Homo sapiens: one gene and its partners. The protein of the gene in region 3 purifies or fractionates together with the protein of the main gene of each other region. This does not show direct contact. Each region holds a gene or a part of one and is shown on either strand. Other genes may lie near its edges.

Region 1 (3,563 bases), on a different chromosome or scaffold from region 3:
TAAGGGTCCTTTTTCTAAGGCACAAGAAGGGTGTGCTTATCCAGTTGCTCTGTGTTTGTTGCTAGGGGGTACCGTCTAGCCATGGAGGGTACCAACACACACTATTGAAGCTGATTGTGCTCTGTTTTTTTTCTATATAAGTAAAGTGTTGTTTCATCCAGGGCTTGACTGCATTATGTTCTCCTTCATGACTCTGATAAAGCGATGCAATGGGCATATGTGATTAGAGTCAATTCCTGGGATTAGCAAGTGATGCCCAGTGTTCTGCTTAACAATTAGAATAACCCAACTTGGTCATAAAGTACTATCCTTTTTATATACTACTGGATTTGGTTTGATACTACTTAGTTTAGTAACTTTGCTTCTATTTTTCAAGAGATGAGATTGGCCTGTGTATTTCTTTTCTTGAAATGTACTCATCAAGCTTTGGAATGAACACTAAGCTGCCCTTGAAATGATTGAGAAATATCCTTTTTCTTCTATTATATTGAAGAATATGGGTAAAATTGGCATTATTTATTCTTTAAATGTTTGGTAAATTTTGCCAATGAAACAACCTGGGCCTATAGTTTACTTTGTGGGAAGGTTTTTATTTATATATACAATTTTAAATTTTTCTTATGTCTTTTAGTTCTGTACATATTTTAAACTCACAAGACATTTGTTATTATTGTTTTACACATTGCTCATTCAGATTTACTCAGATATTTGCCATTTCTGTTGTTCTTCACTTCTTGCTGCATCTCTTAGCTATAATCTTTTTTATTTTACCCGAAATACATTCTTTAGTATTTCAATTAGTGTAAAACTTTGGTGAATAATTCTCTTTTGTTTATATGAAAGTGTCTTTATTTCACATTAGTTTGTAAGGGATATTTTTGTTGGCTTTAGATTTCTATGCTGACAGTTATTATTTTAGCACAGTTATATTCTATGCTGACAGTTATATTCTTTTAGAACATTGAAGCCATGTTTTCATTGTCTTCTGCCTCTCATTTGTTCTGATGTACAGTCAGCAATAATTTTTTTTTTTGCTACTCCTTTGATGGTAATACCTCTTTTTAATTTTTGTGTGCTTTTCTAGTCTTTAGTTTTCAGTCACATCTATTTTTTTAGGTAAGATTATTTTCAATCGAGTGCTAGACTTTGAGATGAAAATGTGGTACTAACAATGAGGCTCCAGATGATGCTATCTTTTTTCAAAGACATATAACTTTTGCTTTTGGAGCCTATCCAAGTCACCTTAAAGGTTCCTTTGGAGTCCATTCAAGTGTTGTTTTTCTTGTTTCTGGATTATAGCTGTTCGGAGAAATGATGCTATGTGACTTCCAAGATAAGGTCATAAAAGATGATCTAGTTTCTGCCTTGTTCATTGGGCTGTAAGCTGCAGTATGAGAAGATCAACTCTCTGAAGCTGCCATGCCATGAGAAAGTCATGTGGTGAAGCCATATTCAGGCACTCTAGTCAACATTTACATCTGAGCTTAATGTTTGAATCATTTCAACAAAGGCACCAGAAACACAAATAAAGAAACCTCCAAATGGTTTTAGCCTGCAGCCATCAAGTGACTCCCAGCCTTCAAGGCTTTCCAGCTGACGTCCTAATTACAGTAGAGAAGAGACAAGTAGTCACCTCTGTGCCCTGGCTGAATTCTTGACCTGCAGAATCTGTGAGTATAATAAAATGGTTGCTTCATGCCACTAAGCTTTAGGGTTGTTTGTTACACAACAATGGTGAAAGGAATGAGTGTTCTGGAGGTGTCAAAGGAAATAAGGAAATGAAAATGAATAAAAAGTATAAGATTGGAAGAAAAAATAGAGCTGCCATTTTTTATGGTTGATGTTATTGTGTAAATAGAAAATGTAAAAGAATATACAGATAAACTATTAATATTCACATATGAGTTTAGAAAATTACTTGATACAAGGTCAACATACTATAATCAATTGTATTTGTATATTGCGGTTATAAACATTCTACCTTTTTAAAAGGAAATATAAAGGGCAATGAATAGTCAGGACACTTCATGAAGAAGACCAAAGTAGGAGAATTTGCCATATTACATTTCAAGATATTTAAATTTATAATAAGTAATATAGTGTGGTAATGGCACAAGGGTAGACAAATAGACAAATGAAACAGAATACAGACACCAGAAACAGACTCACGCATGTATAATCATTTGATTTTTGACAAAGATGGTATTGCAAAATAGTGGGAAAAGGGTGTAGTTTCAATTATTGGTGCTAGAATAATTGGATAGCTATTTGAAAAAAATTAAACTTGACATATATCTCAAACCTTACACACAAATCAATTCCAGGTGGAATGTAGATCTAAATGTAAAAAGCACCACAATAAAGCTTTTATAAATAAATGTAAGATAACATTTTCACGTTCTCAGGGTCTGGAAAGATTTCTTTAAAAATTCACAGAAAAGCATTAACCATAAAGAAAAATATTTTATATATGACTAATTAAAAATGTTTAAAAAAAGGCTAGCCTCAGGATAAAAGTTACTTGCAACACATAGGGACAAAATGTTGCTATTAGGAATAGAGACAAAAAAATATAGAAAAATAGAAAAAGTTCTTAACAGATATTCCACAAAAGAAAATATATAAATGGCAATAAATATATGAAAAGATGCACAACTTCTTAGTAATCAGTGAAATGTAAATTAAAACCACTGTGAAATACTATTCCTCAGAAAATAAAAGGGCTAAAAGAGAAACAAAGTGTCCAGAATGAGGACCTTACACTACTTTATACAATGCTAGTCATACCATTCTTGGATTATGACATTCAATTCTGGGACGACCTTTTGTAGAAGAGAGAAACTGACAAACTGAAACATATTTAGTGACACCTCTAGAGATCACAGCTTATGAAGAATGGCTAGAGAAACAGGAAATACTAAGTTGGAGAAGAGAAGGCTTCATATTACAAGGATAAAGATGAGTTTATAATGGGTAATTATTAGAATCAAAGAAACATGAAAGGAAACAGTTCTCAGCTTAATCTCAGAAAATAATGTTCTAATGTTTTAAGCTGACTAAAAGCAGAATGGAAATGCCTCTGGAATTTTCAGCTCACTGTAACTGGAGGTGTTCATAAGTAATTTCTGGACAACCACTCTATGGAGTTATTACTGGTAGGATGTGGGGGGAAGATAGAGAGCGTATTAGTCAGGGTTTTCTAGAGGGACAGAACTAATAAGATAGGTGTATATATAAAGGGGAATTTATTAAGAAGCATTGACTCACACGATCACAAGATGAAGTCCCACATTAGGCTGTCTGCAAGCTGAGGAGCAAGAAAGCCAGTCCAAGTTCCAAAACCTCAAAAATAGGGAAGCCGACAGTGCAGCCTTCAGTCTGTGGTCGAAGGTCCAAGAGTCCCAAAGCTGAAGAACTTGTATTCCAATGTTCAAGGGCAGGAAGCATCTAGTACGGGAGAAAGATGTGGGCTGGGAGACTAAGCCAGTCTAGTCCTTCCATGTTCCTTTGCCTGCTTTTATGCTAGCAGTGCTGGAAGCTGATTAGATGGTACCCAGCCAGAC
Region 2 (2,711 bases), on a different chromosome or scaffold from region 3:
CACCTTGGCTCCCAGCTTGGCTCCCAGCTTCCCCAAACCCCCTGCTTCCCACTATCAGTGGGAAGTGTAAATTTTTTTTTTTTTTTTTGAGACAGAGTCTCGCTCTGTCGTCCAGGCTGGAGTGCAGTAGCGCAATCTTGGCTTACTGCAACCTCTGCCTCCCGGGTTCAAGTGACTCTCCTGCCTCAGTCTCCTGAGTAGCTGGGATTACAGGCGCCCGCCACCATACCTGGCTAATTTTTGTATTTTTAGTAGAGATGGGATTTTGCCATATTGGCTGGTCTTGAACTCTTGACCTCAGGTGATCTGCCGGCCTCAGCCTCCCAAAGTGCTGGGATTACAGGGAAGTGTAAATTGTACACTATCATTTCTTAGCACAGGGAACCAAAGTCCAGCAGAGCTCCATGTAAAATGTATAGCCTCAGGAGCCAAGCAAAACTGAGCTTCAGTACTCAGCCACTGTGTGACTTAGGGCAGGTCTCAGAACCTCTCTGAGCCTCAATTTCCTCATGTATAAATTGGGTGTGGCCAATACCTATTTTTCAGGGTAGTTGTAAGAAATAGAGATGAGAGAAAGAATCGAAGAACAAGATTTTGTAGTGTGTGTGTGTGTGTGTGTGCGTGTGTGTGTGTGTGTGTGTGTGTGTGTGTGTGTGTTTTAAGCATTGGGATTGGGCCGGGCCAGGTGGCTCATGCCTGTAATCCCAGCACTATGGGAGGCTGAGGCAGGTGGATCATTTGAGCTTGGTAGTTCAAGTCCAGCCTGGGCAACATGGCACAATCACATCTCTACAAAAATTAGCCAGGTGCAGTGGCGCACACCTGTAGTCTTAGCTACTGGGAAGCTGAGGTGGGAGGATCACTTGAACCCATGAGGTCAAGGCTGCAGTAACCAAGGTCATGCCACTGCACTCCAGCCTAGGCAATAGAGCGAGACCCTGTCTCCCAGAAAAAGAAAAAAGAAAGGAAAAGTCGGAACCTTCCTCTGTCGCCTAGGCTGGAGTACAGTGGCATGATCATAGGTCATTTACCTCAGGCAAAGAGACAGGCTTTCAAATAATGTTTCTAACTATAAGAAAATGTACAGTTCTTTTATTCTAGATAGTTAATTATAATAGAATTGGTGACTTTGAAGTCAGTGGGTTATTTATCTTGAGGGTGGTGAGCAAATTCAACTGCCCTTGGCAAACAGTAGTTTACAGCTTTAAGGGCGCAAACACCCTTCCTTACAACAGTCTAATAAAAGGAGTTTCATATAACCAGCATTCATTGTTTCAAGGTTACAAATCCACAGCCCCTGCAGGTAACTGTTACAATAAACTGTCAACTGTGACAGGAAAGTCTTCTGCCTTTGAAATTTAGGAACTTGGCCAGTCCTGGTGGCTCACACCTGTAATCCCAGCACTTTGGGAGGCCAAGGCAGGTGAATCACCTGAGGTCAGGATCAGGAGTTTGAGACCAGTCTGGCCAACACAGTGAAACCCCGTCTCTATTAAAAATGCAAAAATTAGTTGGGCGTGGTGGCACCTGCCTGTCATCTCAGCTACTCGCTAGGCTGAGGCAGGAGAATTGCTTGAACTCCGGATATGGAGGTTGCAGTGAGCCGAGATTGCAGTACTGTACTCCAGCCTGGGCCACAGAGCGAGACTCCATCTCCAAAAAAAAAGACTTAGGAACTCAATTCTGTGATAGCAAAATACAGAAATAGAGATTATACTTTAGGCTAGGTGTTGTGGCTCACACCTGTAATCCCAATGCTTTTGGAGGCTAGGGTGGGAGGATCACTCGAAGCCAGGAGCTTGAGACCAGACTGGACAACATAGTGAGACCCCCCACCTCTACAAAAAATTAAAAAAAAAAATAAGCCAGGTGGGAGAATTGCTTGAGCCCAGAAGTTTGAGAGAGCAGCCTGGGTAACATCACGAGACCTCATCTCTACAAAAAACAACAACAGGGTGTGGTGACATTCACCTGTAATCCCAGCTACTCGGGAGGCTGAGGCAGGAGGATCGCTTTAGCCCAGGAGTTCCAGGCTGCAGTGAGCCATAATCATGCCACTGTACCCCAGCCTGGGTGAGACCCTATCTCAAAAAAAAAGATTACACTTTCATATTATGGCAAAAGCATGTAAATATCCTCCAGCCTCCTTCCTTATTTATCTGAGCAGTGCTGCAAGCCCAGGGTTTGTACCCACAAAACCCCAAATTTATAACTCAGGGTGCTTGTAGATACCACTGAAACATGTAGCTTATGGTTTTAAGCTACATGTTTTTAGCTATAATGTTTTTTGTTTTGTTTTGTTTTTTGAGATGGAGTCTCGCTCTGTTGCCCAGGCTGGAATGTAGCGGTGCAATCTTGGCTCACTGCAACCCCTGCCTCCCAGATTCAAGCGATTCTCAAGCCTCAGCCTTCCGAGTAGCTGGGATTACAGGTGCGCCACCACGCCCAGCAAATTTTTTGTTTTGTTTTGTTTTGTTTTGTTTTTTAGAGACAGAGTTTTGCTCTTGTAGCTCAGGCTAGAGTACAATGGCGTGATCTTGGCTCACTGCAACCTCCGCCTCCCAGGTTCAGGCGATTCTTCTGCCTCAGCCTCCTGCGTAGCTGGGATTACAGGCACGTGCCACCACACCTGGCTAATTTTTGTATTTTTTAGTAGAGATGGGGTTTCGCCATGTTGGCCAGGCTGGTCTTGAACTCCTGACCTCAGGTGA
Region 3 (2,755 bases):
AAATAGTTCCCTGGTCTAAAAAGAATGGCCAGCTATTTAAAAGTACAAGAAGGAAAACACTGAGTTTCTAAATCAGAATGCTCAGCTCTATTATTTTCAGCTTAGCTTACAGCAGAACTATGTTTTGTTGGTACAGTGAATAGCCTTGGTTTTCATTACACTAATGCTGAGTTTAAATTCATATAAACAAATTCTAACAAATAGCATACTAGATGATTTGCTTTTAAAATTCCAAACTTAAAAAAATTGTTCACATCTTTCAAAATGCTTAATTTTTTTACATTTTAGAAATATTATAACTTCTAAAAGTACTCTGTAATCTCAGAAACTAGAAATTTCAAACGCTGGTGCCTATATGGTTGGACCTTAGATATTTGTTCAAATTCCCACCTACTTGCTCCTCCTAGTGGCTGCTACTATAATAGCACTTTCATTCATTTACATCTAACACTTTCAATCAATATTTTCAAAGTACTTAACGTTATGTATGTGAATTTTACTTTATAACTATTCAATTACATGAGGATTTCCATGTAAATTCTATTTCCTAGAAGTAATTAAATTTATGCCAAGGTTAAACAAATTTAATATTAACCATGACTCTCTCATTATCACAGGCTAAATACATACATGTATTTATGCATACACTGTAATTTCAAATAAATGCTCCTGTATTAAAACTTTTTAATTGATTTCTTTTGCTTAAAGAAGTAATTTTCATAATAAAAAGTTGGAAAAATTAAAATTACATATTCATCACTCCTTGTCAAAAAGTTTTCTCCTGTTTTAATGGAATTCAAACTATACCTCTTTGCCCACCTCTACTCCCTCGACATATTGGTCCCCAAAAACTAAAAACAACAACAAAAACACTAAGAACAAATGTGAACAAATCTGTGCTATGCACTGAAAACCTTGTTGCAAGATAACATAACCAGTTCTTAATATATGCCATCATGAACCTCACATATTGCCATCTCATAACCTTTTTAAAATATAGGGCTCTAACTGTGCTAATGACAAGTTCTAAAAGTTTAACAAATTATCTGCATGTAAATTTAGAATAAAGCACAACTCAAGGATATTTAAAAATATATTGTGTGAAATTCAGAATTTTAAACAGTTGGTTTCAAAGTAGCTCTTTTAATTCTAACATGGAGACTCAACCAAGATATGTAACAGTGTTCTGCCAAAGCCATAGATAATCAAAGACACTTACATGCTGTATTTTAAAATTAATCTTAAGTCTAAGAACAATTATATCATGAATACTTCATATTTACAAAGAAAAGTTAAAATTTTTGAAAGTGTTAATCATTTATTACTGTCTAAAAATCCTACACTGAAGTTACTAGACCCTGAAAATTAATTTTGACAGGTGCATCTTCTCATTGACTTTCTCAACACAGTAGGGGCCAATGGAAACATGCCAAGCAGTGTACTGTGACTAACAGAACTCTGCCATAATCAACCTTGCACCGTCTGTCCCACAACTGATACATGACCATTTTACAAAAAAGGCCTCTGACTGTGCACCATACCACCAATAGTATGTCAAATCAATTTTAATTAATGCCAATAAATTTTCCATCTGCTCTTAAGGCGTTTTTACACAACCCTTCTCAGAAATCTAGTAACATTTTTCTCGAATACATTCAACTTTTAAATCTTTAACTTGGGTCAAAAGTACAAATGACCAGTGTAACAAGACAATGAAATGAATCCATCACCTCATCTCTTTAAAATGCTCACTGTGCTACAAAGGTATATTTTTAAATAAATTAATCTTGTTCTCAGTGATGTTATGTTGCCAAGGGGAAATAAATTACAAGCTTCGTTCCTGGGTTATATTTTCACAGCTTAAGACATTCCTATTTGCCCTGATCATATTAGTACCCAAAGTCCCTTTCAGGCAGTTCTGTAAACTTTTGTGCTTCATTTTTATAGAATGACTACAAGAGAGACAATGTGACTGAATTAGAAAATGATTGCCAAAGAATAGTATTAAGGAGAAGAAAACATTTTTGGTCACCAATCTCTCATATACCACTACTGGATATTTACAACATGCTTCAGTGGAGGAGAAGACACTGCTGCTTTGCAAAGATGACCTGGAATGCCAAAAGGTCTCTGTTCCGCACTCATCTTATTGGAGTACTTTCTCTAGTGTTTCTTTTTGCTATGTTTTTGTTTTTCAATCATCATGACTGGCTGCCAGGCAGAGCTGGATTCAAAGAAAACCCTGTGACATACACTTTCCGAGGATTTCGGTCAACAAAAAGTGAGACAAACCACAGCTCCCTTCGGAACATTTGGAAAGAAACAGTCCCTCAAACCCTGAGGCCTCAAACAGCAACTAACTCTAATAACACAGACCTGTCACCACAAGGAGTTACAGGCCTGGAGAATACACTTAGTGCCAATGGAAGTATTTACAATGAAAAAGGTACTGGACATCCAAATTCTTACCATTTCAAATATATTATTAATGAGCCTGAAAAATGCCAAGAGAAAAGTCCTTTTTTAATACTACTAATAGCTGCAGAGCCTGGACAAATAGAAGCTAGAAGAGCTATTCGGCAAACTTGGGGCAATGAAAGTCTAGCACCTGGTATTCAAATCACAAGAATATTTTTGTTGGGCTTAAGTATTAAGCTAAATGGCTACCTTCAACGTGCAATACTGGAAGAAAGCAGACAATATCATGATATAATTCAACAGGAATACTTAGATACGTACTATAATTTGACCATTA

Evidence for each region.
Region 1: the proteins of B3GALT2 (region 3) and HMGN5 purify together in Homo sapiens (co-immunoprecipitation; one large-scale study listed by IntAct). This does not show direct contact.
Region 2: the proteins of B3GALT2 (region 3) and CLN3 purify together in Homo sapiens (affinity purification with mass spectrometry, with the first as the bait; one large-scale study listed by BioGRID). This does not show direct contact.

What each region holds. Positions count from the first base shown.
Region 1 is NC_000023.11:81,191,851-81,195,413, forward strand, and holds part of HMGN5 (high mobility group nucleosome-binding domain-containing protein 5), read right to left. Parts: intron 1-3,563. UniProt on the Homo sapiens protein: Preferentially binds to euchromatin and modulates cellular transcription by counteracting linker histone-mediated chromatin compaction.
Region 2 is NC_000016.10:28,479,364-28,482,074, reverse strand, and holds part of CLN3 (battenin), read left to right. Parts: intron 1-2,711.
Region 3 is NC_000001.11:193,180,875-193,183,629, reverse strand, and holds part of B3GALT2 (beta-1,3-galactosyltransferase 2), read left to right. Parts: intron 1-1,947; 5' UTR 1,948-2,067; coding exon 2,068-2,755. UniProt on the Homo sapiens protein: Beta-1,3-galactosyltransferase that transfers galactose from UDP-galactose to substrates with a terminal beta-N-acetylglucosamine (beta-GlcNAc) residue. Can also utilize substrates with a terminal galactose residue, albeit with lower efficiency.